2 linked regions of the Homo sapiens genome follow. The protein of the gene in region 1 purifies or fractionates together with the protein of each later gene. This does not show direct contact. Each region holds a gene or a part of one and is shown on either strand. Other genes may lie near its edges.

Region 1 (3,746 bases):
GGGGTGGATAGTATCCAACACATCTCAAGCATTTCCATGGCAACACAGGATCACTCCAGAAAGCCTAGTTGATGTAGTACTAGCTAGGTGCTTCACAGGCAGTGGGTACATAATAAATGCTCTTGACTAATGGGCTGTGTCCATCAGACAAACATTCAGCTTTCCCTCTGTTATGCCACCAGTTTATACAGTGATGTGTTTGGCAAGATGTAGGATGCCAGCCACAGGGTAGTTAGACTCTAAGATAAAGGAGTAATGTAGCTGGACAGGCTTGGGCACCAGCGAGGGTGTAAAGGCTGACTAATAGGGAGTTTGGTTTGGAGGGCTATTTCCATTGGGGAGGAGACTCTCACCTGAAGAAACCCTTGCAGCCCTCACAAGTCAGCGCATTAAAGTGGTAGCCTGTGGCTTGGTCCCCACATACCACACAGTTCCTCAGCTCATCTTCCCTACTGGCCATGACGTCACGTGTTGGGGTGGCTGTCACAGACTCCTGAATGTAGGAGGGGTCAGCAGTCAGTTTTGGGCCACCCTTGACCCTTTTCTGTCCCTTCTAGAGAGTCTCTTTCCAAACCAAACCAAACATGCCCTTGACTTGATCCCTGGCGTTATCTTTTGTGGTTTTCTTTTTCTTTTTCTTTTTCTTTTTTTTCTGACACAAGTTCTTGCTCTGTCACCTAGGCTAGATCTCTGCTCATTGCAACCTCTGCCTCCTGGGCTCAAGCAATCCTCCACTTCAGCCTCCTGAGTAGCAGGGACTACAGGTCCAGACCACCATGTCCAGCTAATTTTTGTTTATTTATTTATTTATTTTTTTTGTAGAGATGGGGTTTTGCCATGTTGCCCAGGTTGGTTTTTTTGTTTATTTTTTTTTGTTTATTTGTTTGTTCTGTTTTTTGAGATAGAGTCTTACTCTGTTGCCTAGTGTTGCCTAGGCTGGAGTGCATCATAGTTCAATGTAACCTCACACTCCTGGGCTCAAGGGATCCTCCTGCCTCAACCTCCTGAGTAGCTGGAACTATAGGTACACACCACCACACCAGGATATTTTTTTCTTTTCCTTCCTTCCTTCCTCCCTCCCTCTCTTATTCCTTTCTTTCCTTTTTTTTTTTTTCCCTGAAATTGAGTCTTGCTCTGTCACCCAGGCTGGAGGGCAGTGGTGCAATCTTGGCTCGCTACAACCTCCGCCTCCCAGATTCAAGTGATTCTCATGCCTCCGCCTCCTGAGTAGCTGGGATTAAGGTGCCCGCCACCATGCCCAGCTAATTTTTTATTTTTAGTAGAGATGGGGTTTCACCATATTGGCCAGGCTGGTTTCAAATTCCTGACTTAGGCCTGGTGCAGTGTCTCATGCCTGTAATTCCAGCACTTTGGGAGGCCGAGGTGGGCGGATCACCAGGTCATGAGATCGAGACCATCCTGGCCATCATGGTGAAACCCCGTCTCTACTAAAAATACAAAAATTAGCTGGGCATCGTGGCATGTGCCTGTAGTCCCAGCTATTTGGGAGGCTGAGGCAGGAGAATCGCTTCAACCTGGGAGGCAGAGGTTGCAGCGAGCCGAGATTGCGCCACTGCACTCCAGCTTGGGCGACAGAGCGAGACTCCATCTCAAAAAAAACCCAAAAAAACAAAACAAAAAACAAAAAAACAAAAAAACAAATTCCTGACTTCAAGTGATCAATCCTCCCACCTTGGCTTCCCAAAGTGCTGGGATTACAGGCATGAGCTCCCGCGCCTGGCCTCTTTTCTTTCTTTTTTGTAGAGATGGGGTCTGTTATGTAACCCAGGTTGGTCTTGAACTCCTGGGCTCAAGCGATCCCCCCACCTTGGCCTCCCAAAGTGCTGGAATGACACACGTGAGCCACTATGCCTAGCCCCCAGCATTATCTGTATTTTATTACATTTAGTCTTTGGTCCCCAACAGATTTCCTACCTGCTTCTCTTAGGCAGCATGTCACCTGCAGGCCACAGAATCTGGTATGGAATGCCTCTCCCCAAACTCCCACGCTGTTGCTGGTTTTCCTCTGATCTCAGGAGTTGCCAGTGATTGGAGTTAGGGATTATGACCCGTAGTATCTGGAAAACAAGAGATGTCTGTTTTATGTGGCCTCCAGTTGCTCTCAGTGACTGTGGGGTTAGGGCACAGACCCTGGACTCAGGGCAAAGGCCTGGGTGGGAGGTTTTCCCAGCATGACAAAAGTGCTGGTTGGTGGCACACGGGGAGGGACTCCAGTGGGTGGGAACCTTGTGACTCATTGGAAGCTGCTGCTTATTAGACTCATCGAGATTTTCCCTGTTGATGAGTTTAAGGCTACATCTGCAGCCTTCTGTGTACAGAGATCCTGAACAAGCTGGGAAGAGAGAGAGAGAGAGAGAGACAGGCAGACAGACAGAGCAAGCTTTTTCACACGCAGTATGTCAGTACTAAAAGAAGAGGTGTGACAGTTCCACAAGGCTCCCCCAAAAAAAGTTTTTAAGAGACTAGGGGCTGGGCACGGTGGCTCACACCTGTAATCCCAGAACTTTGGGAGGCTGAGGCAGGCAGGTTACTTGAGGTCAGTAGTTCGAGACCAGCTTGGATAACATGGTGAAACCCTGTCTTTACTAAAAATACAAAAATTAGCTGGGCATGATGGCACATACTTGTAATCCCAGCTAATTGGGAGGCTGAGGTGGGAGGACTGCTTGAACTCGGGAGGCGGAGGTTGCAGTGAACTGAGATCATGCCACTGAACTCCAGCCTGGGCACAGAACAAGTGAGACTCCGTCTAAAAAAAAAAAAAAAAGAGAGAGAGAGAGAGACTACGATCTAAGTAAGAGCTTACGGAAAGAGCCCTCTCACTTCCTAACTAGGGAGGGCTGAGAATCAAATCAGAGTGACCACAGGGCACAGTGACATGCCCTGTACATCCCCCTACTCTGGAGACAGGGAGAGAATGGTTTGAGCCCAGGAGTTTGAATCCAACCTGGGCAACATAGCAAGACCCTATCTCTAATAATAATAATAATAAAGTGCTATTTTTAAAAAATATTTTTTTTTTGGCTGGGCGGGGTGGCTCATGCCTGTAATCCCAGCACTTTGGGAGGCCGAGTTGGGCAGATCATGAGATCAAGAGATCTGGCCAACGTGGTGAAACCCTGTCTTTACTAAAAATACAAAAATTAGCCAGGCATGGTGGCGCACGCTAGTATTCCTAGCTACGTGGAAGGCTGAGGCAGGAGAATTACTTGAACCCGGGAGGCAGAGGTTGCAGTGAGCCGAGATCGCAGCACTGCACTCCAGCCTGGGTGACAGAGCGACCACACCCAGCTAATTTTTGTACTTTTAGTAGAGCTGGGGTTTATGTTGACCAGGCTGGTCTCGGACTCCTGACCTCGTGATCCGCCCGCCTCGGCCTCCCAAAGTGCTGGGATTACAGGCGTGCACCTGTAATAATAGCTACTGTGCCCGGCCTATTTTTCTTTGTTTTGCTATTATGTCTTCTGCTTCTTCATTTGCATTAAATTATAATTAATGTTTCTCTAAAGATGAGTTAAAACCCCAAGTGCAGGCTGGAGTCATACACACACACACACACACACACACACACACAGAGAGAGAGACTGAGTTAAAAAGATCCTTGTTTAGGTTACCAGAATGAGTTGGTAGAACCCCTAATCTCAAGTGGTATAGCATCTAACTATGCATAACTTTGTATTTTGAAATAAACTGAGTTCCAGAGAGCACAGATGCTTGGATCTGTT
Region 2 (3,746 bases), on another chromosome or scaffold:
CACAACAACCATTAAGACAAAAAAAAAGACAAAGAAGGCATTGAGAGAAGAAGCACAAAATAAAGATTATCCCTGAAAATGTGTGGACTAAAATATTCTGTTCTAAATACTTAATTTTAAAATTTCGATTAGAACAACACACTGTCCATTTGGCAGACCTACAAAAACATTTCCTTAAAAAATTACCATTACTTCAACTATATTTTTAAAAGGCCTGTACACTTGGAAAAGACTATCATAATAATTAGAATAACTTGTCTCACTATTTACTTAGAAATGCCCCATTTAAAAGTAGGCCAACAATAGGAACTTTGCTATTGCACAACAGAGAAAGTAAATGAAATAACATCTATTAACATTCAGCGTCCATGGCATGTTTCTCCATCTCCTAGAACATACTGTGACTTACACTGTCTACTCTGAACAATTTACCACTTCTTCATCCATGCAGTAGCTCAAATAAAGACAGTTCCTGTGTTAATCCCACAGTAAGCCTCAGTAATTCTCACATCACCGTAGTTGTAAACGTTTGTTAACAGAAAAAGAATGTTTTTCCTAAAATAGCTACATAACACTAAGACTACTCAAATTCCTAAATAATCCTTTTACAACATGCCTGCCAACTTTATTTTGATACATTAAACATGTGGAGCCTATTTTAAAAGCTCTTTAACTGTGACTATCAAAACAACTTCCCAGTTATTAACGTCTCTTTTTAAAAAAGTTTTCAAGTTGTTCTTAGAAGAAATTGAATATTGATGAATTTGGGCTGCTATCAAACGCCTAAGAAGCACTTTTTTTGCCGAATAAGATGGGCAAACGTCCCAGATCTGCTAAATCTGATATGAGAGGTCATGCAAGTTTAAAAAATGAAGAAATAACTATTTCCAACACTCACTGAGTCCTTCATTTAAAAAATTATTTTCGGTGTTATTTTCACACTTTACGTTTAATAATACAATTTTTTCAAGGTTGTTAGGCTTAAACTATGAAAAACTGATTTACCACATATGGCTAGTCAGTCTATACTCTTAATGGGGCTCCGGTAGATTTGGGGTACTGACAATAAGTGGCAGTTTCAATTAAGAACTTCACTGTTAGGAATGACATCCGAAAAGGATGGTGCTAGGGAAGACAGGCAAGAGATGCCGGGGTACGAAGAAAAGAGAAACACACAATTTAAAGCCACTAAGGAGGGAAGGCGAGGGTAGAACGCATAGACAGCAGAGAAAGACGATTTAACAAGGAAGTGAAGTGGAGCGCAGAGTAGGGCAGAAGCTGATGAGGAAACGAATGGTAAAAGATAGTGTTTTCAAACAGGGCATGCACCAGGAAGAGAAGCGCCAAGGCTTGGGGTAGCCCCAGTGCTTTCGTGTGAAAGAGATGCTTGCAGACTGAAGCGGAGGGAAGAGAGAATCAGTCAGCTTCCAGGCGTTCCAGCAAACTCCCATTCTCTCCCTGCGCCTCTCCCAGACCTCAGCCCAGCGGAGGCGGCGGCCGGGGAAGGGGCCTATACCCGAGAGCCAGGCCCGGCGTTCCCCTGCCTAGGCTCCGCGGCAGCAGGGAAAGCAGCGAGGATTCGGAAGGACAGAGGCCCCGGCCGCGGCTCGGCAGCACCGCGAAAACCTGCCCAGGGCCCGGGGCCTCGGCGGCGCGGCCGGTCAGCCGCTTCCCCTCCGGCGGGGTGCCGGGCGGCCTTACCTGAGGCAAGGGAGGGAGAAGATGTCTAGGGCGCCTCGCTCGCGCCCGCCGCGGTACTCAGCCCAAGTTTCCAACGGAGGCGCGACCCTGACTCAGCCGCCGCTTCCCCCTCGGGGTCTCGACCGCCGCCTCCGGGGCTGTTTACACCGCCCGGCCCCTCACGCCGCCGCCGCCGCCGATGCCGCCTTCTCTCCACCCTAGCGCCGTTGCCGATTCGGCCGCCGCCACCTCCTCCGCCGCAGCCTCGTCTCTCTGGAGCATCTTCCAACCACCGAACCCTGAGAATCAGAGACTCCAGCCGCGCCGGCAGGAAACTCCCCCGCAACTGCTAGGGGAACGAGGCCGTCAGAGCACCGGCGGCTTTTCCGCCATTGAGCAGAAGCCGCTCGGCTCCTTTTGCAACCCCCTCCCCGCACCCTAGTCCTTCCCCGCCCCTCAGGGTGCCCCGCCTCCAGCTGCCACCCACTGGGATGCCGCGCGCCCTCTCACGGCCCCCGGTTTGCTGGGAGTCTTGTCAATCACCGCTCCCCCTCCCCGTGCTGCTCCCTCGGCACCTCCGTACTTCGTTTACCCCGCCCACCCGGCCCCGCCTCTGGGTTTCTAATTTCCCATTGGGCATCAGTGGCTACTTTCAATAGGCAAGGTCAGCTGTCCATCAAACACCGCCCACTAAGTGAGACCCAACCCTTTATTACCATTTACTTTATTCGGCCCCGCCTCCGCTAGGTCCTACCTCCCGAACGTCAGGGACCAGCCCCCGCTACCAGCCATAAGTAGAGCCCTCCGTCAATCAAATAACGCCCACCTGCGCTCCTCCTAGCAAAGCCCCGGCCCCAGCGATTGTCTTTTCTTATTGGTCCAACTCGTGATCCGAACCCCCAGTCACTGGCTTTCTTGCGGGTCAGTCACTGAGCCAATTTCCAAGTCCGTCACACCGGCTTTTTTCAAATGAACGCGCAAAAGGCGGGGAAGTATCTGGAAAGCGATTGGTTCGTCCTAGAAAACGGTCAAACCCGGAGAGTCTGTACGGATCCTTTCCGTTCTGTGAGGACCGTGCCCCCTTGTATTTGACCTCTAAGCCTCGCGTAAAAGAAGCGCCATAAGGGACCAACGAGCAGTCCAGCTATAGGTGTGGACGCCTGGTCCCACCCGGAATTGCAGGGGCTTGGCTACTGATTGGCTAAGAAAGTCCTCCTAGGCCCTCATTGGAGGATCTAAACGCCTCTCTTCGGCGTGGAGACGGGAAGGGACGACTCAGACGAGGACAAGAAGTGGGCAGGGGAGAGGCGGTTGTTTTGCTTCAGCCGCGGGTGGGGCGCAGGCGAGAGTGGGAAACTGGGAAGGCCGGGCTCTGGGGAGGTGTTGCGGGGAGGGGAAAGGCCCGGATGTTCCCTAACAATGAAATCATCGCCGACCTATCAGAGCCGCCGAGCTGGGATACCTGCCTGACCTGTACCCCGGAGGGAGAAGAGTGGGCGGGAAATTGGGGTGTCGGAAGAACCTGGAAAGCAACGTGAGAAAGTGGGACAGGTGTTCCCTTCAGGAGGATTTTGTGCTATTAGAGATTATTTTTATACCAGCCCTTGACATTTCCGTATTTTGTTTCTCAGTCGGCATTGATATTAAAACTCCCAGCCTAGTCTCTTGACATGGACTTGTTCATTTCGCAGTTATTGAGCGCCTACTGTTTGCCAGGTACTGTATGTAGAACTGGAGATACAAAAATAAATTAGGCAATCGCAGTACAAGATGATAGGTACTACAATTGAAACATGCACAAGGGCTGGTGACGACATAAAGGGTCTTCCTTGTGCATAGGTTTACCAAGAAAGGCTTCACAAAGACACAGGATGAGTCAAGAATGAATGATAGGGGTTTAACAGGCCGATGGGGAAAGTGGACATGACTCCTCCAGCTATCAAATTAGACGATGCTGCCATGTTAATTCTCCAAACGAGAAACAAAAGTGTAATAGAGGTATTCTAATACTTACCTTAGGATATATATATATATATATATTTTTTTTTTAATCCGAATGTCCTAAA

The links.
Region 2: the proteins of NR1I3 (region 1) and PPM1B purify together in Homo sapiens (affinity purification with mass spectrometry; 3 studies listed by BioGRID and IntAct, with this or other methods). This does not show direct contact.

The regions. Positions count from the first base shown.
Region 1 is NC_000001.11:161,236,106-161,239,851, forward strand, and holds the start of NR1I3 (nuclear receptor subfamily 1 group I member 3), read right to left. Parts: upstream 2,099-3,746; 5' UTR 1,956-2,098; coding exon of another isoform or gene 1,936-1,955; intron 494-1,935; 5' UTR 461-493; coding exon 354-460; intron 1-353. UniProt on the Homo sapiens protein: Binds and transactivates the retinoic acid response elements that control expression of the retinoic acid receptor beta 2 and alcohol dehydrogenase 3 genes.
Region 2 is NC_000002.12:44,167,230-44,170,975, reverse strand, and holds the start of PPM1B (protein phosphatase 1B), read right to left. Parts: upstream 2,102-3,746; 5' UTR 1,702-2,101; intron 1-1,701.